Homo sapiens: one gene and its partners. The protein of the gene in region 2 purifies or fractionates together with the protein of the main gene of each other region. This does not show direct contact. Each region holds a gene or a part of one and is shown on either strand. Other genes may lie near its edges. The genes, in order: CSE1L, CYB5B and FLVCR1.

What was found.
Region 1: the proteins of CYB5B (region 2) and CSE1L purify together in Homo sapiens (affinity purification with mass spectrometry; 2 studies listed by BioGRID and IntAct, with this or other methods). This does not show direct contact.
Region 3: the proteins of CYB5B (region 2) and FLVCR1 purify together in Homo sapiens (affinity purification with mass spectrometry; 2 studies listed by BioGRID and IntAct, with this or other methods). This does not show direct contact.

What each region holds. Positions count from the first base shown.
Region 1 is NC_000020.11:49,081,245-49,093,177, forward strand, and holds part of CSE1L (exportin-2), read left to right. Parts: intron 1-2,781; coding exon 2,782-2,918; intron 2,919-4,038; coding exon 4,039-4,142; intron 4,143-6,764; coding exon 6,765-6,862; intron 6,863-8,002; coding exon 8,003-8,153; intron 8,154-8,293; coding exon 8,294-8,502; intron 8,503-9,497; coding exon 9,498-9,595; intron 9,596-9,692; coding exon 9,693-9,778; intron 9,779-10,801; coding exon 10,802-10,883; intron 10,884-11,933. UniProt on the Homo sapiens protein: Export receptor for importin-alpha. Mediates importin-alpha re-export from the nucleus to the cytoplasm after import substrates (cargos) have been released into the nucleoplasm.
Region 2 is NC_000016.10:69,462,619-69,466,764, reverse strand, and holds the end of CYB5B (cytochrome b5 type B), read right to left. Parts: 3' UTR 501-4,146; downstream 1-500. UniProt on the Homo sapiens protein: Cytochrome b5 is a membrane-bound hemoprotein functioning as an electron carrier for several membrane-bound oxygenases.
Region 3 is NC_000001.11:212,879,335-212,891,267, reverse strand, and holds part of FLVCR1 (choline/ethanolamine transporter FLVCR1), read right to left. Parts: intron 7,898-11,933; coding exon 7,830-7,897; intron 5,976-7,829; coding exon 5,872-5,975; intron 3,378-5,871; coding exon 3,267-3,377; intron 2,780-3,266; coding exon 2,674-2,779; intron 2,123-2,673; coding exon 2,011-2,122; intron 1-2,010.

The DNA of each region.
Region 1 (11,933 bases), on a different chromosome or scaffold from region 2:
GAAAGTGCTGGGATTATAGGCGTGAGCTACCACGCCCGGCCCATTTCTTTATTTTTTGAAACAGGGTCTCGTTCTGTCGCCCAGGCTGGAGTGCAGTGACATGACCACAGCTCACTGCAGCCTTGAACTCCTGGGCTCAAGCAGTCCTCCCACTTTCAGCCTCCCGAGTAGCTGGAACCCAGGCACGTGCCACCACACCCAGCCATATTGCATTACTTTTAAAAAATCAATTGAGAAAAATTATAGAGAATACCTGCTTCCCCAGTTAGAGTATGTTGGAATTTTGCCAATCTTAAATGGTATCTCATTGCAGTTTTAATTTACGTTTGTTTTATTTTGAGTTCAGTTAAGCATCTTTCCACTTGAAGGGTCCATTTTCATTTCTTTTCGGTGAACTGTGAATTCATCTTCTTTTGCCCATTTTTCTATCTGATTATTGGTCTTAATTTTTAGAGAACGTGTAGTTTTTCTTCTGATTCTGAATGCCTAGGTCACTTTAATTGTACTGAGAAAAAAATCAAAACTTGCACTCATCTTATTTCTTTGATGTCTTTGCCCAGTAACAATGGTGCCATCTTGCAAAATATTTTAAACACACAAGCAGGAATAAAACAATATGATGATTACTGAAATAATCCTCACAAATCTTAAAACTCCAGGCCATATTTATGTATACATACATATACAATGGAGGTATTCCAGGTGCTCCCTGCCCAGTCAGTCCCTTTCTCTCTATAGGTAATTACTGTAGTGAATTCGGTGTATTTGACACCCATGGAAGTGCTTTTCTTACGCTTTCACTACGCATTTATGTTTCTGCAAAAATTATTTAGTATTATGTAGGTTTTAATTTTTTTTTTTTAGATGGAGTCTTGCTCTGTTGCCCAGGTTCAAGCCATGCTTTTTTTATACTTTCACTATGTGTTTATGTTTCTGCAGAAATTATTTAGTATGCTGTAGGTTTTAATTTTTTTTTAGATGGAGTCTTGCTCTGTTACCCAGGTTCAAGCCATTCTCCTGCCTCAGCCTCCCAAGTAGCTGGGACTGCAGGTGCCCACCACCACGCCCAGCAATTTTTTGGTAGAGACAGGGTTTTGCCATCTTGGCCAGGCTGGTCTTGAACTCCTGACCTCAGGTGATCCACCCGCCTTGGCCTCCCAAAGTGCTGGGATTACAGTCGTGATTCACCACGCCTGGCCTAGGTTTTAAATTTTTGTTTGTATAAATGACATCATACTATGGGTTTCATTTTTCTGTTTTTTGTTACTTGTTTGTTTTGAGACGGAGTCTTCGCTCTGTCGCTCAGTGCAGTAACACAATCAAGTCATGCAGTGGCACGATCTTGGCTCACTGCAAGCTTCACCTCCTGGGTTCATGCCATTCTCCTGCCTCAGCCTCGCGATAGCTGGGACTACAGGCTACCGCCACCATGCCCGGCTAATTTTTTTTGTATTTTTTAGTAGAGACGGGGTTTCACTGTGTTAGCCAGGATGGTCTCGATCTCCTGACGTTGTGATCCGCCCGCCTTGGCCTCCCAAAGTGCTGGGATTACAGGCATGAGCCACCGTGCCTGGCCTTTTCTGTTTTATTTTGAGAATGAGGTCTTGCTCTGTTGCCCAGGCTGGAGTGCAGTGGTGCGATCATAGCTTACTTCAGCCAGGAAATTCTGGACTCAAGCGATCCTCCTGCCTTAGCCTCCCTAGTTGATGGGATTACGGGCATGCTCCACCGTACCCACCTACATCATGACTGTTTGTCCTTAACATCTTTTTTTTTTTCTTTTTTCTTTTTTTTTTCTGAGATGGAGTCTTGCTCTGTTGCCCACGCTGGAGTGCAGTGGTGCAGTCTCAGCTCACTGCAACCTCCGCCTCCTGGGTTGAAGCCATTCTTCTGCCTCAGCCTCCCGAGTAGCTGGGACTACAGGCGCATGCCACCACGTCTGGCTAATTTTTTGTATTTTTAGTAGAGGTTTCACCATGTTAGCCAGGATGGTCTTGATCTCATGACCTCGTGATCTACCCACCTCGGCCTCCCAAAGTGCTGGGATTACAGGCGTGAGCCGCCACTGCGCCCGGCCTAACATCATTTTTGAGTTATTCATTTAGTGCCTAAAGCGATCCAGCTACCTCAGCCTCTCAAGTTGCTGGGACTACAGGAATTCACTACCATGCCCAGCTAATTTTTTATTTAATTTTTTCTTAATAGAGATGAGGTCTCACTATGTTGCCCAGGCTGGTCTTGAGCTCCTGGGCTTAAGCAATTGTTCTACCTTGGCTTCCTGAAGTATTGGGATTATAGACAGGAATGAACCACCACACCCAGGAGGCTTTTCTAGTTTAGACTAATGAATGTTTCAAATTTAGAGGTTTTTAATGAAGATTGTTCTCGTATTTGTTGCTTTTTGGGGGTGGGAAGAGAACAAAAAATGAGACACAAAAAGGTTAAATAACTTTTTCAAGAAATATCTGCTAGTGATGATTCTTAAGTTTGGTGAAATCTTAGTCTCCTTCTCTGTGATATTATTATTTTATGGTATGTTGATTTATCTGCAAGATGTTATCCTCATAGTTTTGTGCTCTGAAAAGGAGAATTTAGAAAGTGGAAATTGAACCATTATGTGCAAGTGAAAGTTTTGGTTTCTGGGCAGCAGCATCTCCTATTATAACAGAGCTTAAAAATAGCAAATTGTTCTTTAAATCAACAGGTCCTTCTCTTCCAATTGTCTTTTACTCAAATATGGAATCATTGCATTTAGAGCATGTATATTATTGTGTTTTTTAGGTGCCAAAAGAACATCTTTTAGTCTCGATTCCTCTCTTGATTAATCATCTTCAAGCTGAAAGTATTGTTGTTCATACTTACGCAGCTCATGCTCTTGAACGGCTCTTTACTATGCGAGGGCCTAACAATGCCACTCTGTGAGTATTTTATTCTAAAGTTTTTTAGCCTGGGGTAGGGGCTGTACTGTGCTGGTCAAAGATATCTGAATGTTTTCATAATTTCACTAGTGGGAAAACAAATGTCTGCTTTCTATTCCTTTATACTCTGTTTCATTCTAAAAGCATTTGAGGCTGCTTACTAAAATAGGTGCATTATGACAATACAATTTAATAAACTGGAGCCAAGGAAAGTAACTGAGATAAAGTTAATAAACAGAAATGTGTGTCAAAGGATCCTATATAGTAGTCCAAGAAACTCCAAATTTTATTTGGAGTCTCTTAGCAGCCAGGGCAAAGAGGGAAACTTGGGAAGTTAAAATTTTCACAGGGTCTATGAGATAAAAGTTAAAGCAGAGAATACTGTACAATAGTAGTAGTAGTGTTCTCAGCAACAATCATGTAACAGTTATTTTCATGTGGCTATTTGCGTAAGGTCACTTATTTCTGAGATATGACCTAACCGAATGAAAGTAATTCACTGGGGACCAAGAAAATAGGTCTTCTGGCCTGAACCAGGATGAAATGTAGAGGAATGGATGGTCTGCATGTCTTTCAGGCCACTATTCAACAGTATTATTTCTTGAAATGAGCTTTGGGTAAGAGATGGAAAACAGTTCTAGGTTCTTTCCTTCATCAAGAACTTGAAGTACAGATACTCTCAGTGGCCAATTAAGGGTAGAAAGGACATCCTTTGAGGTGAGTCAAGCCAGTACCTATCTTCAGGCCCAGAATTTATGCAGAAAACAGTTCTGAATCTTGGCTCCACCTCCAAAAACAAAATAAATGACAGAGTCCCCTGAGATTCTGAGTTCTTTCTCAGTGGTAATAGATATAAACCAGGGACAACTGTTTCAACTTCAGATGTTGTTGGGTTTAGCTGGCTTTTTGGTTCAGTTGTGTTTGGTTCTCGATGTGCCTTCTTAGGAGCCTAACATGAGCACATGTAAAAAAATTATTTTCCTAAACTGTCTATCAATTGTCAGTGGTGGGAGATGGCTCAGTTTTATGCTGAGAAGGGTGACATAGTGGTTGCCAAGGGTAATCTGCAGTGACAAGCTCAAGAGTTGGTAGTGACTGAAAGCTGTTTTTTCATCTATAGCTTTACAGCTGCAGAAATCGCACCGTTTGTTGAGATTCTGCTAACAAACCTTTTCAAAGCTCTCACACTTCCTGGCTCTTCAGAAAATGAATATATTATGAAAGGTAGGCTGTTTCCCTGGTGTGCAGACTACAGGTATCCAATCTCAGATTGTAAGGGTGAGCACTCTGAGTTATACTTCAGGTTATACAGTCTATGAACCAGATAATGTTTACCAAGTAGTAAGTTAGTTTAGATATTTCAAAATGAAAAACATTATCTTGTTTACTACTAACAATAATTTTTTTTTTTTTTTTTTTTTTTTTTTGAGATGGAGCCTTGCTCTGTTGCCCAGGCTGAAGTGCAGTGGCTTGATCTCAGCTCACTGCCACCTCTCCCTCCTGGGTTCAAGCGATTCTCCTGCCTCAGCCTCCCGAGTAACTGGGATTACAGGTGCACTCCACCATGCCCGGTTAATTTTTGTATTTTTAGTAGAGACAGGGTTTTGCCATATTGGCCAGGCTGGTCTCAAACTCCTGACCTCAAATATCTGCCCGCCTCAGCCTCCCAAAGTGCTGGGATTAGAGGCCACTGCACCTGGCCAACAGTAATCTTAATTTGATATGGAACTTCTCATTACAGAAAATGTAGCAAAGCCCTTTTTTCCTTCCCTAGATTGAGTTTCTTTAAGGCAAAGAAGAGATCATGCAACGTTTATTAACTGCATGCTCACCTAGGTAGGGGTGAAATGTGGGTGCCTGTGGTAGACTCTGCACAAATCGTGTCTTCTTACGTACTGCCAAGGACACAGGCAGCTGTATCCATCCACAGGCTGGTGTATCCATCCACCAGGCACTACATTAGTTGAGTGTCCTGGTGCCAGCTCTGAATTTAGAGATAGTCTCAGTGTTTTTCACTGTTGCATCCCAAAAGCCTAGCACATTGGGTTGTAGGAAGCACTTTTCAGAGAAACTCCCTGATCTTTTCAGTCTGGATCAGAAATCCTAGAGTGGATGTGTGTATCTGGGTGTATGTTTCCAACACTATCCTTCCCCCAACAATGATGTATAATTGTGTAATTATTGTTGTTTAATGTCCTTTTTTTTTTTTTTTTTTTTTTTGAGATGGAGTTTCACTCTTGTTGCCCAGGCTGGAGTGCAATGGCACAATCTCAGCTCACTGCAGCCTCACTCTCCTGGGTTCAAGCGATTCGCCTGCCTCAGCCTCCCGAGTAGCTAGGATTACAGGCGTGTGCTACCATGCCCAGCTAATTTTGTATTTTTAGTAGAGACAGGGTTTCTGCATGTTGGTCAGGCTGGTCTTGAACTCCCGACCTCAGGTGATCCACCCGCCTCAGCCTCCCAAAGTGCTGGGATTACAGGTGTGAGCCACTGCGCCCAGCCTTAATGTCCATTTCTATGAGAGCGGCTAACTAGTCTGTAATCTTCATTACTGTGTTTTTAGGGTATGTAAGAATACACAGTATGTAATACCTTCTCTGTACGGTTGTATGAGTGAATGAAATAATTCTGCGCCAGCCTAGTGGAGGAGCACCAATTTATCCTCTAGCCCTTTTAACCCAGGTCAGGGAAGGATTTTCTCTAGGAAGTGATCTCTAAGCTGAGATATGACCTAACCGAACGTTAGGTGTGAGGGATAGGTAGCAATCTGTTGAAGGGTGGATGAGTCTTTGACTCCAGTAGAGGAGGAAACATGATGTGCAGAGTTCAGGAGGCAAGAGCAGATAGCTTTCTGTCCTTTATGCTTGGCATGTATTTGGGGCTCTGCTTAGTAAACATTTATTTTAGAAATGTTATTTGTGGAAAGAGAGCTTTTATACATTTTTAGCTGACAAATTTATTTTTCTCCCATGCTTCCTATTTTTAACCCATTTATGGTCTTTTGAGCAATATTTTTGCAATTTGGACTCTGTGGCTTTACATGTATTTTTAGAATTTTTTTAGGCTCCTAATCTCTTTTTTTGAGGGAGGTGGATAGGCAGTTTTCTCTTCAGTTTCCTGTAGTTTGTGATCATGTTTCCTTTAGGCTAGGGCTAAACATTTTCTGATGCTGGTTTCTTTTTCTTTTTCTTTTTTTTTTTTTTTTTTGAGAGAGAGAGGGAGTCTCGCTCTGTCTCCCAGGCTGGAGTGCAGTGGCATGATCTTGGCTCACTGCAACCTCCACTTCCCAGGTTCAAGCGATTCTCAAGCCTCAGCCTCCCGAGTAGCTGGGACTACAGACGTGCACCACATACCTGGCTAATTTTGCTATTTTTAATGGAGATGGGTTTTGCCATGTTAGCCAGGTTGGTCTCAGACTCTAGCCTCAAGTGATCCGCCAGCCTCGGCCTCCCAAAGTGCTGGGGTTACAGGTGTGAGCCACCAAGCATGGCCTCTGCTACTGATTTCTAAGAGAAAGAGACCCCAAACAGTTCTCTCTCAGACTCACCTGCTCCATTCATGTCAGCTCACTGTTTCTTCCTCTTAGTCAACCTCTTTAATTATTTTTTAAACCTTGAGCCTTCTAGAAATACTCAGTATTTCCCAGCTAAATTTTGTTGCCAACCCGTCCTAATTTTAAAAGGAAGGGAAATTTAGATTATTTTTAAATGTAGAGAGCTATCTCGGGGTTGTCTAAGCATCTTAAAATTTAGTTGATGAATTAGTGCGCTTTTTTCCCCCCAGTCGCTCTCTTATTCTGAAGTTTAACTAAACTCTATTTGTTTTTGCTGTTTTTGTATTTTACAGCTATCATGAGAAGTTTTTCTCTCCTACAAGAAGCCATAATCCCCTACATCCCTACTCTCATCACTCAGCTTACACAGAAGCTATTAGCTGTTAGTAAGGTAATAGAGCCAATTTTGAAAGTGGGGTTCCTTTTTTATTTGCTCCAAACTGTTTGGGCCTCAGAACTCTTTGGCATTACGTGAAGCTTTAGAGAAGGTCTGTGAATTCTTCCTGACCAGCCACTAATGGACTTTTCTGAAAGTGTGGGCATGCTGTTAGATTGGAGACGTAATAGCAGTCACCTTTAAGTGTGTGCTAGAAGCTTGAATACATTTTCATTCTCATTACAAAAGTAACATGTTTATTGTAGAAAAAGAAAGTGCAGATGATCCAAAATTACCTTAAATGGAGTTAAGTAGGCTTTGCACTAAATGGATATAAAAGAGGCTGTCTGGACTTCTATGAAATGATGATTAAAATCCTTTGTGTTGTCTTTTCTTCCTTACTCTTATTTCTCAAAAGGAAAGTTCACTCTGATCAAAATTTTACAGATACTTAGATTCATGTTTATTAACACTAAATTTTAGAAAATAAATCCGTTTAAGGCTGACAGAATTCCTTTTTAGATGCTATTCTTGATCTTATGAGAATTAGATCAATTCATAGGAAGTGTTGGAGGGATTTTGGAGAACAGAGTGATTATTATTCAACTGAGTTAGGGCTAAGGGTCTTTGGACTACTTAGGGCCTTGAGGGATGGAGCGGGGAGGGAACCCAAGTCTCCGCCTCCCATATGTATTACCATCTCATGTTCTGATTGAGTTAGATTTGTATGCTAGTAGCCTTCCAAGAACTTGTTTAAAGAAAAATGGGGTTTTGTTGCTTAAAAAGAACATAAAAAACTACTCATTTGGGGGATTATCAGTAAGTAGACATAGACATTGAGGCCCACAGAAGTTAAGGCTAGTGGCATTACTAGGACTTAGTATTTCTTCTCTGCGAGGGCACGTGGGCTTAAGACAAGTTACAGCTCTGGGATCTGAGGTTTGTATAAGCAACTCTGTAACTCTGAAGTATTTTTTTCATGGTGGACTTTGGGCCATTTAAAAAAAAATTCAAATGAACAAGCACTAGGGTATAATTGGTGTTTTTTTCTTAATTTTGATTTTTAAAAAATAAGATGGCCTCTATTTTAAATGTGTTTTATAAAGGTTAGGTGTGGATTATTAGCATAATTAGGTTTTTTTTTTTTAATTTCAGAACCCAAGCAAACCTCACTTTAATCACTACATGTTTGAAGCAATATGTTTATCCATAAGAATAACTTGCAAAGCTAACCCTGCTGCTGTTGTAAATTTTGAGGAGGCTTTGTTTTTGGTGTTTACTGAAATCTTACAAAATGATGTGCAAGGTAAGTTAACGGAAATTATTTTCTTTGTAATGGAATAAAATTAACATGGCTATAAAATGCAGCCCACCTAAGCGATGTGGGCCTTTTGTGTCAGTCATTCCTTCTGAAGCTCACAGCTCTGTTTTTACTTTTATCAACAGAATTTATTCCATACGTCTTTCAAGTGATGTCTTTGCTTCTGGAAACACACAAAAATGACATCCCGTCTTCCTATATGGCCTTATTTCCTCATCTCCTTCAGCCAGTGCTTTGGGAAAGAACAGGAAATATTCCTGCTCTAGTGAGGCTTCTTCAAGCATTCTTAGAACGCGGTTCAAACACAATAGCAAGTGCTGCAGCTGACAAAATTGTGCGTCAGGTTTTGATATAACTGTAATTTTATAAAGTAGCTTGGAGAAACTGGGGATGGCAGATGTTTGAAATTTTTTTATTTAAAATAAATTTAAGGCTGGGGGCAGTGGCTCAAGCCCACCACTTTGGGAGCCTCTAGTGGGAGGATCCCTTGAGCCGAGGAGTTTAAGACCAGCCTAGGCAACGTGGTGAGATCTATCTCTACAAAGGAAAAAAAAGCTTTTTAATTAGTTGGACACAGTGGAGCATGCCTGTGGTCCCATCTACTTGGGAGGCTAAGGTGAGAGGGTCGCTTGAGCCCAGGAGTTTAAGGCTGCAGTGAGCCATGATCTCACCATTGCACTCCATCCTGGGCAACAGAGCTAGACCCTGTCTCTTAAAAAAAATAATAATAATAATAACGGAAATAATTAGTAGAAAATGTTATGGTATGTTTTATCAGAATTCTGTATCCTTTAGTTATTTATATCCATGATGGAAAATTTTAAAAACAGAGCCAAACAGGTTGATTTTAAGAACTTAACTTTGGTCGGGCGTGGTGGCTCACACCTGTAATCTCAGCACTTTGGGAGGCCGAGGTGGGCAGATCACCTGAGGTCAGGAGTTCAAGACCAGCCTGGCCAACATGGCGAAACCCCGTCTCTACTAAAAATAAAAATTAGGTGGGTGTGGTGGCACGTGCCTGTAATCCCAGCTACTCAGAAGGCTGAGGCAGGAGAATCGCTTGAACCTGGGAAGCAGAGGTTGCAGTGAGCCAAGATCGCCCCATTGCACTCTAGCCTGGGCAACAAGAGTGAAACTCCGTCTCAAAGAAAAAAAAAATTACTTTAATGGCTACGCGGGAGGAATTGTTCCCCATATGTTTCAGAAATAATTAAAGAGAAAAGGATAGATTATTACAGTATGAACTCTGTTTTAAGACATATATCATGTTTAACTTTTCGAATAATTATTCCTGTTAACCATTTTCTGTTGGATCTCATTTCTTAACAGCCTGGGTTACTAGGTGTCTTTCAGAAGCTGATTGCATCCAAAGCAAATGACCACCAAGGTTTTTATCTTCTAAACAGTATAATAGAGCACATGCCTCCGTGAGTATGACTAGAACTTTGTGCATTTATTTAGAAATTTTGTTAGGTGCTCAGAAAAGTCCTAAATTTATATTGTTGATTTTTTTTAATTCTTTAGTGAATCAGTTGACCAATATAGGAAACAAATCTTCATTCTGCTATTCCAGAGACTTCAGAATTCCAAAACAACCAAGTTTATCAAGAGTAAGTAAAATCATCTGGATGTTCTACAGAAGTAATGAAAGAAGGTAGCTAAAACCCTTAGACTTTATGGTTGCAGATACATTTTTTATCCGTTTTAAACTTTATGCAAAAAATACTTGGCCACGTGTGGAGGTTCATGCCTGTAATCGCAGCACTTTGGGTGGCCAAGGGAGGCCGATCGCTTGAGCTCAGGAGTTCAAGACCAGCCTGGGCAACATGGCGAAACCCTGTCCCTACGAAAAGTACAACAAAATTAGCCAGGCATGGTGGCATGTGCCTGTAGTCGCAGCTGCTTGGGAGGCTGAAGTAGGAGCATCACCTAAGTCCCAGAGGTTGAGGCTGCAGTGAGCCAAGATTACACCCACTGCACTCCATCCTAGGTGACAGAGTGAGACCCTGTCTCAAAAAAAAAAAAGAAAATATTGTAAGGGCCTGGTGCAGTGGCTCTCATCTGTAATCCCAGCACTTTGGGAGGTGAAAGTGGGAGTATTCCTTGAGTCCAGGAGTTAACGACCAGCCTGGGCAACATGGTAAGACCCTGTCTCTACAAAACAGCCAAGCATGGTGGTGTGTGCCTGTAGCCCCAGCTACTCAGGAGGCTGAGGTGGGAGGATCACTTGACCCTGGGAAGTTAAGGCTGCGTGAGCTGTGATCACGCTCCTGCACCCAGCCTAGGTGATAGAGTGAAACCTTCTCACAAGAAAAAAGAAAATATTTTAAGATGTTTGTGTTCTCCAAACATTAAGTTAGTGTTAGTCATATTGTGTTCCAGAGGTTGGTTTATGGTTGGATACCAAAACATTTTTTCAGTAGAGAGAATATTATAAGGAAATATAAATCAAAGAGAGACAGCATGTAAAGGTCTATGACAGAAAGACAAGTTTTCTATTTACTAGAAGGCAGGTATTGATGCCACAGCCTTTGGATGTTAATGATTAAGCATAGGTTTATTTTGCAGACTTATCAGTTACCAGTTTAGTGCGTGAGTTCTCTATGCTGATATTCTGCATCTTCTTTCAACAGGTTTTTTAGTCTTTATTAATTTGTATTGCATAAAATATGGGGCACTAGCACTACAAGAAATATTTGATGGTATACAACCAAAGTAAGTTTGTTTTTATTATTTTTTAAAGGAAGAAAATGTTTTGACTTTTTTTTTAGTACAAATCAGTATCTCTGTCTTATAGATGATGATGTGGTTCTTGGTATGGAGATAGTGTCTATGGTTTTCAAAATATTCTTAGGTATTGGGAGTAAAGAAAAAGTAATCCTGGCCCAGCATGGTGGCTCACGCCCGTAATCCCACACTCTGAGAGGCTGAGGAGGGCGGATTTAGCTCAGGAGTTTGAGACCAGCCTGGGCAATATAGTGAGACTCCATCTCAAAAAAAGAAAAAACACCCTGGAATCATTGTTCTAATCCTCTAGATTAGAGGACCATCTACTCTACACACTGGCATTCTCCACAGCCAGTGTTCTATATTATGTTAAATGGTCAGTGTTGTCTCCAGGAGCCTGCCTTATTAAAACTAACAGCAGAAAACACCACATGTTCTCACTCATAGGTGGGAATTGAACAATGAGAACACTTGGACACAGGGCGGGGAACATCACACTCTGGGGCCTGTCGTGGGATGGGGGGCAGGGGAAGGGAGGGCAGAGGGAGGGATAGCATTAGCAGAAATACCTAATGTAAATGACGAGTTAATGGGTGCAGTAAACCAACTTGGCACATGTATACATATGTAACAAACCTGCACGTTGTGCACATGTACCCTAGAACTTAAAGTATAATTAAAAAAAAAAACCAGAATTTTCCTTCCCCCTTTTTTAAAAAATCGTGCTAATCCATATCGTTCCAATTTTAGTATATGTGCTGCTAATGCAAACACAGCAGAATTTTTCAAATGAGAAATACTTAGGACCAATAAATTAACTTTGTTTTTGACTTATCTGGTATATATGCAAAGAATGTATTTAGGTGGCATTTCCCATTAGTAGGGAATAAAACAATTATAACGATAAGATAAAGAACAACTCTTAGGGAAAATTTCTTCGGGGACAGTTAGATCCCTGTACCTCAGTTATGTCTCAAAAATTCTACATTGACTAAAAAATGAATTACTCTGGAAAGGAGACCAGAAAACATGGCTTCC
Region 2 (4,146 bases):
TATGTTTCAAAGGTAATTATAAAAACGGTTTATTTCCCTTGTTTTATTAACACAGTCACTAAACTTCAATCTCAGTGTTTAATTTTCCCCAACAGTTTAGCTATTTCCAAGAAAAACAATCATTTGAAGACTGGCATTGCAGATAACAAAACAGTATTACCTGGTACTGGCTTCTCTGTCAGTAGGTATTTTCAGTGGAAACAGAACCTCAAACCTGGCTACCCCGTTCCCACTTCACAGCCATTAAAACACAGCCTTGCTTTTTGCATTTCACGATTATCAAATGAACGATTCACTTCACGAAAAGAACAGTGAGGAGAATCCTGGAGAACCACGGAACTCCCCACCACGTTATGCTAAACACACCATTAGCACAGACACGGGAGACTGTCATGCTTCTGAAATCCTTTTCTTCCAGAACACCTGAGGATTACAAAACCAACACTTCTACTTAAAAAACACCTTTTTAAATTAAAAATAATAAGTGTAGTCGGGGCAAGAAAAGGAAAACAGTGTCTTTATTGTGTGTAGTTCTAACAAACGTTCACTGTGTGCGCATTCCAGCAGAAAGAGACAAAGATCTTTGTTCAAAATATTCTGAAAAAGGTAAACTAACTGCATTATTGAATACACAAAAGGAATGTTACCGTTACTTGTTCATAGTCAAAGGTGAAGTTAAAAAAAAAGGGAAGTTAAATAACTGAAGTAATGGTTTGCCCAAATAGCAAACGTAGGATACAAGCGTGGGCAAAGAGCAGCTACTGAAGCTCATGAGGAGGATGCTGGATATAGGGTAGGTAACTTGACAAATGCCTCTGCTTCTTTGGAACCTTCTTCCTAGATCACCCCCACAAATTCCAAACCTGGCTCTTTCAGAGCACAACAGCCAAATGTAACTAAACTCCTCATTACTTCTGTGATATTTGGCAACAGAATAAGATAGTTTAAAAAAAAATCAATTTCTTGTTGAGACAAGACATGTCTGAATCCATTTCTCTTGGGGTAGGAGGAGGTAATGAACATTAACGTTCTGCATCTCAATCTCCTAAAATGGAATTTAACCAGATAGATATCGCTTGAGATTTTAAAGCAGGAGATACCATAAGTAATGATACTCCAGGCCTGTAAAGCATTTTTCATTGTCCCACATTGCAGCTAAATGAGTATAAACTCGACAGTGTTCTGATTTCACAACATATGCATTTATGACAACTGCTAAAACAACTTTACAGGCTCAAACGATAGGTTCCAAGGGATTTTTGTTTTTGCTTAAGCAGTCTTGAAGAGATCTAAACACAAGATAAACTTTGACCCCACCACTCTGTTATCTTTACAAATGCAGAAGTCATTTGGAAACCAAAACCAATTGCTGAGTAGGGGCTGAGGAATTTTGGTGTCATTTCAAACTAGACTCTACTGAGGCAGGTTTAAACCCTGGCTCTCAGGCCAGGGGCAGTGGTACCAACACCCTCTATTTCGGTAGCATGAAACTTCTCTCACCTCCTCCTTCGTGTCCAGCAGCCATGATGTGTACAGTACAGTTTGCAGCAGCAGCAGCAGCAGCAGCTAGTCTTCCTCAGGAATAAACAACCGAACACCCCAGAGACCAGCTCCAGGTGGCACTGTCAGCCAATGGGGACTGGCTCCACTTGCTCTCCAGAGGGTTTTTCACCAGCTACCCATGTCAAGACTGTTTTGTGAATTCAAGTCTACTTCCTAAAAAAAAGGTCCTTTTGGATGGATTTGGCTAGTGTGCTATACTACTTTATTGTATAGAAAAACCTCTGCAAACTCTCACACAAGATTTAGCTTTCACCTGGCTGTTTTTGTAGGCAACAAAATAACAGTAAATGGACCCCAAAGTGATTTTCCAGATACAAAGTGACATCACATCGGCAGTAGTTCAGAAGAAGCCCTGGGTACTGGGGGATTTCATGGGTGGAAGAGACAAAGTCTAATTATCTTTTCCTCTGGCTCTCAGCAAAAAACAAGTGCAGATGTAAACAGGAAAAGAAAACCAATGTGAAGTAGAAAAACATACCTTTTGCATTGGCATTTACCTTAAAAATAACAAAAACACCAATTTTACTTAAGATGGTAGTTCTTTAACATTTCTTATAAGCCAGATGTTTTTCATTCAATTTCGGACATTGCCAACACACTTTTACAACTGATTCAAGTTATCTTCAGGCTTGGCTTTAGTTTGAATGTTCCCTTTCAAGCTCCTCAATACTCCTCTGTTCTTTACTTTTACCCCAATGTACTCCAATAATCACGCAATTTATTTATTACAGGCAATCATATACCAATCCTTCCTTGCCTTTAAATAGAGAAGCATCAAGTCATACCACTTTTGTTAAATAATAACCAAAGTTTTTTTCAATATTGTCTTAAAAGTAGCATCTTATAATGCATACAAACATTTTTCTAAAGATAAAAGCTTTACTAAACCCATATCCCTGATAATAAAAGTCAGCCAGAAATCTCCTAAAATTACTCCCAAATATATCCAAGTGTGCAAGTACAAGGTTAATATTATTTTGATGAATTCTGTATTCATTCAACTGCTAAATCACAGGATACAAGACCTGGGTTGAACTTTTTCTTAAATAGTTTACATGGGCAGTCCCTGGTTTGCTGGGCAGTTTCCTGTCTCATCAAATCCCTGGCAAGCTGGGAGGGAGGGAGGAGATGCTGAGCAGCCTCTATGGTCCTTCTTGAACCAAGCTGCTCCCTGCTGGATATGACAATGGCTCAGAAGCAGACTAGCAATTCTCAAAGGACAGGGAGAAAAATCACCACAGTTGCTGGCAGAAAACAGCCAGTGTACTATTTATTTCCTCAAGTGCTTCCATGGGGGAAAAAATAAAAGTCTAATATGCCAGAGAAATCATCATTGAACCAATAAGACACAGTAACATAATTCTAGTAACCTACTTCTCAATGAACACACATCTGAGAAAAAAACCGCCAGTATTTTATTCTCATGGAAAAACAGAACAAACCCACAAGTTGGAGTCACGGAGATAAAATACAGATGAAATGGAAAACGGTCTGTTGTCATGAACTCTCACTTTCAAATACCATTTTATATGGAAGTTACTTTACTGCGGGGCAAACAGAAGGCCATGCTGGAGTCTCTTACTTTTGGAAAATGGAGAATCAAAAATTTGCTAATCAACAAACAAAAAAGGAGGGAAACTCCTTGGTAAAGCTCTACAAACATAATTATACATTTATATTTTACCAATAAAAGATAGCTAGGGTAGAAAAAACAGATGGTTAGAAACTGGTGCCAAACCAAAGTGAAAGCTTTGGTGCCTTCTCTAAACTCCTATCCTGTTTCTTTAGAAAACACCAGTTTTCTAAAGAAAGATTACTCTGAATTCACCAGGGTTCTATCACCCCAATTCATCCCTACCTTTCCACCCCCAAGACACGAAAGGGCCATGTAGTTTTTTGTCCGGCACCACTTGGGAAGGGGCTGGGCTCAGGGGCTGGGAAGAGCTACCTGCTGCCCTAGCTTGAAAGGGAGGAGGTGGCCACACCATTCTTTGTATTTTTATCACGCACATAAAAGAACAAAAATCATTTGGCAGTTTTAAGTTTAATAGGTGCAAACCTTTACTTCAGGAATTAAACCCCTTATGATAAATAAAAGAATTAAATCAGATTTTTTTTTAATACAGATAGGGGTCTCGCTATGTTGCCCAGGCTGGTCTTGAACTCTTGGCCTCAAGCGATCTTCCCACCTTGGCCTCCCAAAGTGCCAGGATTACAGGCCTGAGCCACCACACCTAGCCCTAAATCAGAATTTTTTAAAAAAAATTTACTTAAAAGAAAAATGGAAAAATAAAACTTTCAACACTAGACTGCCGCCCTGTTAAGAATGTCTAATATGCAATCAAAGTATTGGAAAGCAGGCATTTTTACCAAAGAGCAATGTCACTATAACTTATGAACAGAAAGTTGTGAAATATAAGGGTACTCATGGAAACCAGTGAAGAGAGGAAACACCGGCAATTGTTCAACACGGAACAGTGAGCAGGTACTTTGGGAGTAAGGCTCTGAGAGATGGAAGACGCTGGTCTCAGATCTGAGGTGATGTCTGGCCAATCGTCTTGGCTCCAAGGGGGAAGAATGCAA
Region 3 (11,933 bases), on a different chromosome or scaffold from region 2:
GCTAAAGTTTTTTGTATTTTTAGTAGAGACACGGTTTCACTATGTTGGTCAGGCTGGTCTTGAACTCCTGACATCAAATGATCCACCTGTATCAGCCTCCCAAAGTGCTAGGAATACAAGTATGAGCCACCACGTCCAGCCAATAGTAATAATCTTAGATAAGATATAGTACTTGCCTAGGAATTAAGAACCAACATGGAATTACTTATGAAAGAACAATAGTTAAAGCAGTTAATGTATTACATATTTCACAGTTTTGTATGTTTTATTTTACTAACTGGACAGGGGGAAAAACTCCCTGTGATAAGATGTTTTTCTTTGAGGAAACAGAGTGCATTCACTTTCTTTTAGCTTCGTGAATGAATGCTCAGGTTCCTATCATTCATACAATTGAGTGAGCGACCTTAGGTAGTTGTGTATATCCAAAATGTCTATCACTGGTGAGATTTCATATTGAAGGTTTCACAAAGAATGATCAGGTATTCCACAAACAGTAGAAGAAATTCTGATTCACATCCTTCTGATAGATTCTCCAACTAAGTTATAACCAGATCCTCCAACTAAGTTATAACCAGATCAACGAAGCACAACCTCCCTTGGTATCTGCGGGGGATTGATTCCAAGACCCCACCTCAGATACCAAAATCCACGAATGCTCAAGGCCTTTATATGAAATGGTGTAGTATAAGCTTGTTCAACCTGTGGTCTGCAGCCCATATGTGGCCCAGGACAGTTTTGAATGTGGCCTAACACAAACTCACAAATTTTTAAAAAACATTATGAGATTTTTTGCAATTTTTTTTTTTTAGCTCATTAGCTATCATTAGTATTAGAGTATTTCATGTGTGGCCCAAGATATTTCTTGTTCCAATGTGGTCCAGAGAAGCCAAAAGATTGGACGCCCCTGGGAAGTATTTACATATAACGTACACACATCCTCCTATGTACTTAAACCATCTCTAGATTACTAATACCTAATACAATGTAAATAGCTGTTATACTATAATGTTTAGGGAATGATGACATTTTAAAAGTATGCACCTGGAAAAAGTTCTGCTTCCAAATCTATTGTACACCCATGTGCATGGGCAAACTATGGATAAAAATTCTCTGACATTCTCTTTCTCTGGAGATTGAGCACTATTTTCTTTCCTGCCCATGTCTATGATGACTATACCTAAGAAGTATAAGCACTAGCTAAGGATTCCACATACTATTTCCACCACTACCACTTGACTGCTTACCATCTCTACCACATTATAACAATAGTAACACATGTTAGGCACGTCCCAGGTGCCAGACACTAGGAACTTTTCATGAACCATTTCAATTAATCCTCACAGTAACCCTATAAAGCAGGCTTTAACACTCTATTATATAAATAAGGAAAGGAGGATTTGAGAGGTTAAGCAACGGGTCTAAAGTCACACTCCCACTGAGCAACAGAATCGGAATTTGAGGCCAGGTCTTCCCAACTCCAGGTCTTTACTACTCTTTTTTTTTTTTTTTTTTGAGACAGAGTCTCGCTGTTGCCCAAGCTAGAGTGCACTCGTGTGATCTTGGCTCACTGCAACCTCTGTCTCCTGGGTTCAAGCAATTTTCCTGCCTCAGCCTCCCAAGTAGCTGGGGCTACACGTGTGCGCCACCACAACTGGCTAATTTTAGTAGAGACGGGGTTTCGCCATGTTGGCTAGGCTGGTCTCAAACTCCTCACCTCAAGTAATCTGCCCGCCTCTGCCTCCCAAAGTGCTGGGATTACAGGCATGAGCCAACACACCCAGCCTTTACTACTCTTATTATAACAGTTTTGCTTGCTATGCAGAGTAACTGTATTGAATTTGAAATCTGCAAAATGAAGTAAGAGATTCATGTCTTTAGAAGAAAACAAATAATGTCCTGCTTTTTATCTCATTTTTTTCCCCTTGAGTTCTGTCAAGCTATTGAGAAGCAATATATATGAAAATTAACACATGACACAAGTCCTTTTGCCAGGCAAACGCCCTAATTTACCTGTTAATATGATGCCTATAAACATCCAGACACAGAGAAAAATGTTCCCTGCCTTAGGACCATAGTCTGATGTGAGCTTTCCTTGAGCCAATGTGAACAAAATTCCAAATATCTAAAATACAATAAGAAAAATCATTCGTTATTAAGTTAAATTATTTAAAGCAAGTATAAAGTTTTCACCAGAACTTTTCTTATTTTGGTTATATGATTTGGTTTCTAGAAACATTCATTGAAAAGTTGAATTGTTAAAACAAAAACCACGGTCAGGCTGGGTGCAGTGGCTCACACCCACTGTAATCCTAGCACTTTGGGAGTTGAGGTAGGCGAATTGCTTGAGCCCAGGAGTCCGAGACCAGCCTGGACAACATGGCAAAACACCATCTCTACAAAAAATAACAAAAAAAATTTAGCTGGGCATGCTGGTGTGCACCTGCAGTCCCAAAAACTCTGGAGGCAGAGGGGGGAGGATTGCTTGAGCCTAGGAGTTTGAGGCTATAGTTAGCCATGACTGCACTACTGCACTCCAGCTTGGATGGCTGAGCAAGACTCTGTCTCCAAAAAACAAAACAACAACAACAACAAATAAAACCATGGTCAAACTCATTACTCACTAGAATATCTGGTATAATAATCATCTCAGGTTTAGAGAAATCAGAGGTTTACCTGTGCAGAAGCATTAAGAAGACCAGATGAAGTACCTTCAGATTCAGGGTAAGTGATTTCAACAGCAAATTCAAAACCCAAAGGGAGGTAACCAGTCATGAAGAAGCTAGGAAAATAAATCCAGAATTACAGAAAGAACTACCAGAAAGTCACAATCACATACTGATGCAATCATTCTGCCTCTCGGGCTTATTCTAATGACCAAATAAGTGAATATTTTGAAGTTGCTATGTCAAAGTAAGGAACTATTATCATTGACCAATCAGCTCAAGGTTACAGAACTGGAAGCAACAAATACACATTTTTTTCTGAGAAAAATTTACTTCTAGTTTTATAAGTTGATTGTAACCAAATAAAGTTACACAGATTAAGTAAGGCTCATCCATTTTTTACCTATGGTATACCAAAAACCAATTTTAAATAATTTTTAATAGTTCTTAAGAATTACATGTTTATATGCATAGAATGAATCCTTTAAAGTTTAAAATATTGAAGAAACTTTGGATGAACTGAAAAAATTAAAGACCAGAGTAATAATACTTCAGAATTATAACAGCATGCTATCATTCCTCCTAAACACATCTGATACTTACCCAAGCACCCCTCCAGTAACAAACACGATGATAATATATCTAAGGTCCAATGTGAAAGTAAAGATAACCATTCCAATAAAAGACAAAATATAAACTATCAGAGTAGTCTGTCTAAAACAAAAACAACAAAGCTGTTAGTATTTTGTCTGATTCTCCTAGGAATACAAAAATCATCACTCTTACCTGTTCAGTAATGAATCTTTGTTTTTCAAAGTTCACCCCTTCTTGTCCATGGAAATATGTATCCACCAAAGCACAAATTTTAAAGCATTTTTAATTTAAGATTCAGCAGCACCAGAAAACCACACCATATCGAATGCTCAGATAGGATCCTTTTATAGGAATAAAATCATTTTTATGCCACCAAATGGGATAGTTCCCTATTCACATTTCAAGATTCAGATCAAATTCTACCTCTTCCAAATGCCTTCTGTAACGACACCAGTTTATAAGAGTCTCTCTTTCTTCCAAATTCCCTTATCATACTGGCACTATAAAACTTATGACATCTATTTTAGTTTGTTATATTATTTAACTTTTCACATGTGAATGCCTTATTTGCTCCATTTAGACCACAAACATCTTAAGAACAGGGATCACATAATGCCAGCCATAATTTTCATCTAAGAAAGATGCACACAACAGGAGTTTGGTGAATGAATGGCAGTTACCCTGAGAAGGAAGCCACAGTGGCAAAGAACACACATCTATGCCTATCAAGTTTTCTAAATGTATAACGGATGAAAGACTTAAGAAATATAATCCTTTACATATGCTCCCTTCATCTATATATCAAGTAGGTTTCACTCTAAGCTATCATTTTAAAATAATGAAGCTAAGGCAAGTGCTGTCTTAAATTATGGAAGAATATGGAGAATTTCAAGATTAGAGATACTTTTGGTAGCGTTTAGACTAATAATATCAAATATATCTTGAGCCTTGAAAGGTACACGGGACACAGTTCCATATTTCATTCATTTATTCCTTAATAGTTTCATTCATTCATTTCCAAGTACAGGGGTAAGTTTTGGCATGTTACAAAATGTGGTGATTCTTTTCACTCCCAGAGCAAAATATGCTGCCTCTGAAACCCCTTTCTTAGTCTCCCAGTTGGTATCATTCATTTTCTTTGGTATTAGCCTTTTGGTGGTTCCATATAATGTACAATTAACAGAGTATATTCTTTTTTTTTTATTTTTTTAGACAGCGTCTTGCTCTGTCACCCAGGCTGGAGACCAGTGGCACGCTATCTCAGCTCGCTGCAACCTCTGCCTCCTGGGTTCAAGCAATTCTCCTTCCTTAGCCTCCTGAGTAGCTGGGATTACAGGTGCCCACCACCACACTTGACTATTTTTTGTATTTTCAGTAGAGATGGCGTTTCACCATGTTGCCCAAGCTGGTCTCGAACTCCTGGCCTCAAGCAATCTACCCGCCTTGGCCTCCCAAAATGCTGGGATTACAGGCATAAGACATTGTGTCAAACCAGCATTTTCACATTATGCATTATATTACAGTTAAGTGGTACTGTAGTCTGGGCGTACTTTAGCCAAAAAGTTCTTACCAAAATAAAGCCTTATGCTCAACAATAATTTTTTGATTGGAAAGAACTACTTTTTTGTTTTTGTATTTAAGCCCACAACATAAAAAAAGAACAACATAGGCCAGGTGCAGTGGCTCATGCCTGTAATCCCAGCACTTTGGGAGGCTGAGGTGGGCAGATTGCCTGACCTCAGGAGTTCAAAATCAGCCTGGGCAACATGGTGAAACACTGTCTCTATCAAAAAGTCAAAAAATTAGCCGGGTGTGGTGGCGCACACCTGTGGTCACAGCTACTCAGGAGGCTGAGGTGGGAGAATCACTTGAGCCTGGAAAGCAGAAGTTGCAGTGAGCCAAGATGGTGCCACTGCACTCCAGCCTGGGTGACAGAGTGAGACCCCACCTAAAAAAAAAAAAAAAAAAGAACAAGATAAAGTCTATCAAAAGTCAAATATTTCTCAGAAATGGCTCTTTTTAGAATAGAAATAATTCCTTCGGAAGTGGTAGGTATGAGTACTGTTAGAAAGAAGGGGCTCATAAGGTATCCAAGTTCTCAGAATTGAAATAAATGTGACCAATAAAATAATACAATACATAGAGTATTGAAACACTTGTTGCTGGGCGCGGTGGCTCACGCCTGTAATCCCAGCACTTTGGGAGGTCGAGGCGGGTGGATCACAAGGTCAGGAGATCGAGACCATCCTGGCTAACAAGGTGAAACCCCGTCTCTACTAAAAATATAAAAAAATTAGCCGGACATGGTGGCGGGTGCCTGTAGTCCCAGCTACTCGGGAGGCTGAGGCAGGAAAATGGCGTGAAGCCGGGAGACAGAGGTTGCAGTGAGCCGAGATTGCGCCACTGCACTCTAGCCTGGGCGACAGAACGAGACTCCGTCTCAAAAAAAAAAAAAAAAAAGAAACACTTGTTAAGTGAAGAGAACCTACTAGTGTTTAGAATCCGTATCTTTAAGTAATAACATGTTTTAAATTTCTTGAAATAAAAAGCAAATTGTCCTTTAAAATCAAAATACCTTTGGTTATACACCATACATGTATTTACTTTCACTTACTTGTATGTTTTAGTATAATCCAGCCATAAGCCACAAAGAATAGAGCCCACCATTCCAGCTACTACTAGCGTTAGCCCAATCCTTCCAGCATTGACTTCTTCTCCCTGAAAAAAATTTGCGTAAGAAGTTGATCAAATAAATGGATTAACTAATTCAGACTCTTCACATTCCCACACCTTTTCATAGTCAATGAAAATAATTAGATAAAACTAAGCACACAGTAGGAAGATTTAGTACATGTGTCAGTGTGGGAGGGGAGGGCAGGTAAAGAATATATAAAAGCATTATATTTTAAAACCAGAAAAAAAGCCTAAAATAATAGAAGAAATAAAAAAGGTAAATTTTCCTTAATCCTCTATGGTTAGAAGTACAATGATTTTTGTTAGGATTCTTAAGTATAGATAGTCATGTGCTCCATAATTACATTTAGGTCAACTCTGAATCATATATACAGTATGATCCTGTAAGATTATAATACTGTATTTTTATTCTACCTTCTCTGTTTAGATATATTTAGATACACAATACTTACCATTGTATTACAACTGCCTACAACATTCAGTAGCATAACATGTTATACAGGTTTGTAGCCTAGGAGCAATAGGCTATACCACGTAGCCTAGGTATGTAGCAGGCTCTACCATCAGGTTTGCGTAAGTACACTCTATGATATTCACACAACAATGAAATTGCCTAGCGAATTTCTCAGAAGGTATTCCTGTCACTAAGCAAGGTATGACACTGTATAGATATCTGAAAAGGAGGTTAATCGATAGCTTTTACATAGTACAACTGCTTTATCCTTTCAAAAGCAGATACGTCAATCAAAACTTGATATTTATTTATCTATATTTATGCTGAGTTCCCTTAAAATGTTTTGTCTTTTTCCATATAACCAATCATATTATTTCCTAAAAATAAACTTAGGTATTGTCACAGGGATAGTAACTTCTGCTTTCCATATTGTGTGTGTGTGTATTTTGTTTTGTTTCGTTTTTTTGAGATGGAGTCTCACTCTGTCACTAGGCTGGAGTACAGTGGCGCTATCTTGGCTGGGATTACAGGTGTGAGCCACGGCGCCCAGCCTGTTTTTTTTTTAAATGGGGATTCACTCTTATTGCCCAGGATGGAATACAATGGCACGATCTCGGCTCACCGCCACCTCCACCTCCCAGGCTCAAGTGTTTCTCCTGCCTCAGCCTCCCGAATAGCTGGAATTACAGGCATGCGCCACCATGCCCAGCTAATTTTGTATTTTTGGTAGAGACAGGGTTTCTCCATGTCGGTCAGGCTGGTCTCGACCTCAGGTGATCCACCCGCCTCGGCCTTCCAAAGTGCTGGGATTACAGGCGTGAGCCACTATGCCTGGCCATACTATGTGCTTTATAAACTGGATTAAATATGTTAAATTAAAATGATGGGAGGCCATTGTTTTGGAGTGAGCTCCCACAGTAGGCCCAACAGACCAGACCACATAGAATGGTGTCACTAGTGCTAGGTGTCACATAATCAAACTGAACTTTAAAATGGGCCACTTTTCCAAAAAAAAAAAAAAAAGGAGATTCATAGCAACCTATCAGATGGGGCCCAGTCCCCTTTGTTTTACTCCTATAAGGAAAGTAACTTTGTAGCAACCAATCTGCTCTTTGTTCCTTGTTTCTGCTTTCTTCAGCCTTTTTCTGCCTATAAAGCCCATCTCCTCTGCTCAGCTCATCAGTACCTTTCTAAATCTTTAGATGGGATGCTGTCCAATAAACGAATTGATAATAAAAGCCAATTAGATATATAAAGTTGTGGAAATTTCATTTTTTAACAAATATATTCTCAATTAAAACAAATGTAAATATTTGATAGCAACAATGTCATAACCCTTAATCTCATGACCCTGCTAACGACAATTATATTGCTAAAGAAAAATTTTTGGCCAGGCATGCAATCTGATATAAGCAGAAGCTTACCTCATAATATGTCAATATCATTTGATTTAATAACGTTGAGACTGAATAAAAGGCACCAGTCATGATACCTACAATAATAAATAAAGATGATATTAAGTCATGATACCTACAATAATAAAGAGAATACTAAAAGTGTGTCATTTACCAGTTCATGAAGTGACATGGAATATTATGTGACAATTGTGGAAATACATTTCTTAACACAGTTGATAAAGGAAATTAAAAACCATTGTCATTCCCTTTCAGAACCTGGACTAATGAATTTAACACCTAACTGTACTAAAGATGTAATAGCAGAACTCTGTCCTAATACTATTATTATTTAGATTGAGATATACTGACCATAAATCATACCCCCACATGCAACACATATATGGCAACCAGTCAAGCAATGGATTGTTTACTGAATTCCTACAATGTACTACTACAGCCAACAAATGTGCAAAGCCTAACAGAAACTGTGCTTCAGAGATCTTACCTTTTTGTATCAAAGACTTACTGAAAATTCATAAGACAAAATCAGTTAATACTTTTTTTTTTGAGATGGAGCCTTGCTCTGTTGCCCAGGCTGGAGAGTAGTGGTGCAATCTCAGCTCACTACAACCTCCGTCTCCTGGGTTCAAGCAATTCTACTGCCTCGCCTCCCAAAGGATACTTTAGAAGTGAACAATAAAAACAACTGGCTATGAGAAGCACAGGATAGGTTTGAATCCTGATGTCTCCTAGCATGTATTGTATGAATTTAGGTAAGACTCTTAACCTAAATTAAGCTAAAACTTAAGTTTATTATTTATCTATTATTAAATATTTTAAGAATATAAAATAGCATAGAGAATACAACAAATATCCTCATATATCACCCGGATTTGGCAAACATTAACATTTTTCCATCTTTGCTTCAGATTCATTTTTCAGACTTTTCCCAATCCTATTCTTTACCAAAGTCAAGCCCTAGCTTGAGCTTGGTGCTTATCATTTTATATATTACCATATATGCATATTCATAAACAATTAGAAGTATTCTGTAAGTATATAAATATTATTTGTATCCATCTGCAACTTGCTCTTGTTACACTATATTGAGATGGTTTTGAGATGTATCCATGTTGATATTTTTTGTTGTAGTTCATTAGTTTTCTGTTGTACAGTATTCTATTATGTTAATATACTTCAATTTAATTATCTCGTCCTGTCAATAGACACTTAAGGGTTTCTTTTTTAGTTTTTCACTGTTTAAAACAAGACTGCAATGAGTATTATGTTTTTGTTCTTATACATAAGAGCTTCTCTAAGTATATATCTAGAGTAGACCTTCTACTTTCTAGATATAAGCAATTTGCTCTTCAAAGTAGTTGTTATCCGTTCATACTACCAGCAGAGTTCCTACTGCTCCACATCCTTGCCAAATTTGTTTTCACCAGATTTTAAATTATTTTGCCAATGTGAATGTGTGTGATATTACATCTTACTCTGGCTTTGATTTGTATTTCCTTGATTACTGTTAAGGCTGAATATCACATAAGAACAATACACACAGACACAGACACACAAATGTCTTCTGGTGTCCTTGGATTGTTTGCTCTTTCTGATTTGTAGGAGTTATTTTTAACTAATACTAATCCTTTGTTGGTTATATGCATTGCAGACAATTTTCTCATAGTCTAAGTCCTGTCTTTTCCCTTTTTCAATAATGTCTTCCTAGAAAAGATTATTTTAATATAATCATATTTATCAATATACTTCTTTAGGGTTTATGTTTTTTGCATTAAGAAATTCTTGGCTGGGCGCAGTGGCTCACGCGTGTAATCCCAACACTTTGGGAGGCTGAGGCAGGTGGATCACGAGGTCAGGAGTTCGACACCAGTCTGGCCAAGGAGTTCGTGACCAGTCTGGCCAACATGGTGAAACCCCGTCTCTACTAAAAATACAAAAATTAGCCAGGCGCAGTGGTGTGCGCCTGTAGTCCCAGCTACTGGGGAGGTTGAGGCAGGAGAATTGCTTGAATCCGGGAGGTGGAGGTTGCAGTGAGCCGAGATTGTGCCACTGCACTCCAGCCTGGGTGACAGAGCGAGACTCTGTCTCAAAAAAAAAGAAATTCGACAGAGTGAGACTCTGTCTCAAAAAAAAAAAAAAAAAAGACAAAGAAATTCTTTGGGAATACTAAAGATGGTCTCCTATATTTGTTCCTAAAACTTTAAAGTTCTTATTTTTACTCTTTGGTCTCTACTATAATTCATTTTTATGCATGGTATGATGTAGAGTTCTAATTTTAGTTTATTTTTCCCATATGGACAATCAATTATCCTGGGACAATTTACCAAACAGTTCCTCTTCTGCAAAACCTCAAGTTTTCCTATATGTATAATGTACTAGTTATTAGAGCAGTTTGCAAATATTCTAGTTTTTATTTTTCTAGGCATGGCAACATGACTTTAAATATAAGCAAAGGTGACATTCCCTGTTTTCTGCCTTAGTAATCATGGAAGCATTTACAGAGATGTCAGGCTGTATCCTTGAGTAACTTTGATGAGCAGAAACTAGCTGTCAATTCACACTGGACATGCAGTTTTAGCAAGAAATAAACTTTTCATGTTTCAGGCCACTGAAGTTTTTTAGCAGGACTTCTTTTTTTTTTTTTTTTTTAATAAAGAGTCTCACTCTGTTGCTCAGGATGGAGTGAAATAGCAGTTTCGGCTCACTGCAACCTCCATCTGCCAGGCTCAAGTGATTCTCCTGCCTCAGCCTCCTGAGTAGCTGGGATTACAGGTGCCCACCAACACACCTGGCTAATTTTTGTATTTTTATTAGAGACCGGGTTTCACCATGTTGGCCACACTGGTCTTGAATTCCTGACCTCAGGTGATCTGCCTGCCTTGTCCTACCAAAGTGCTGGAATTACAGGCATGTGCCACTGCACCTGGCCAGCAGGATTAATATAAGCTAGCCTAGGTCAAGTGACACCCAAGGTAGGTCTCTGGGCTCTCTATTCTGTTCCAGTGATCTGATGTCTATCCCTTACTCATGGCATCTTAATTACCATAGATTTATAAATTTTGATAACTAAGAATGAGTCCCTCACCATGTTCTTCATCAAAATTATCTTTGCTGTTCTTGGCCCTTACTTCACTCACAGGAATTTTTACAGTTGGTTTGTTCCATTACAATCCCTGTTTAAACTGGCGATTAAAGGATGAGACCTATAGCTCGTCTAAAAACTTGTTAACAACACTTATCAAAAACACCTGGGTAACTGGCCTTTGTTATTCAACTTCCCACTGAGCTCAAGAATGCACGTGGACCACGCTGGGTTAGCCTGCGGAAGATGAGGATAACAAATGAGGCCTGTGCTCAGGCCTGAGTGTACTCTACTGCACTGCACCCTATGGTGATTTTGAATCTAATACATACTGAAATAAGGATAGCAAAAATTTGGATGAAGAATTATAACAGCCAAAAAAAAAAAATACTATGTTATCTGAACCTAGAGTATGGTATCTAAGTTTCAGAGAGCAAACAGCAACAGTTGGGATAGTAAGGAATCATCTTTTCTCCAAATAGTGCAACCTCAAAAAAAAAAAATTTGGCCGGGTGTGGTGGCTCATGCCTGTAATCCCAGCACTTTGGGAGGCCAAGGTGGATGGATCACATGAGGTCAGGAGTTTGAGACCAGCCTGGGCAACATGGCAAAACCCCATTTCTACTAAAAATACAAAAAATTAGCTGGGCATAGTAGTGCGTCCCTGTAGTCTCAACTACTCCGGAGCCAGAGGCATAAGAATTGCTTGAACCCAGGAGGTGAAGGCTGCAGTGAGCAGAGATCACACCACTACACTCCAGCTTGGTCAACAGAGTCTATAAAGACATCTATTTATATTATAGACTTTATTACCGATAATTTTTTTCCAAAAAAAATTTTATCTTAGTCCATTTGGGTCCTGAGTTTGGGACACTGCATATATGATCCCGAAGCTCTATTCTAGAAGTATTATTCCTTATCCAGAGTATCCCACAAGCAAGACTGCTCCAAGCTTATATATATCATATTAGGCACGGAGGGGGACAGGGACATGTCTAAAAGGTATGCTGTGACCCTCACGCAAACAT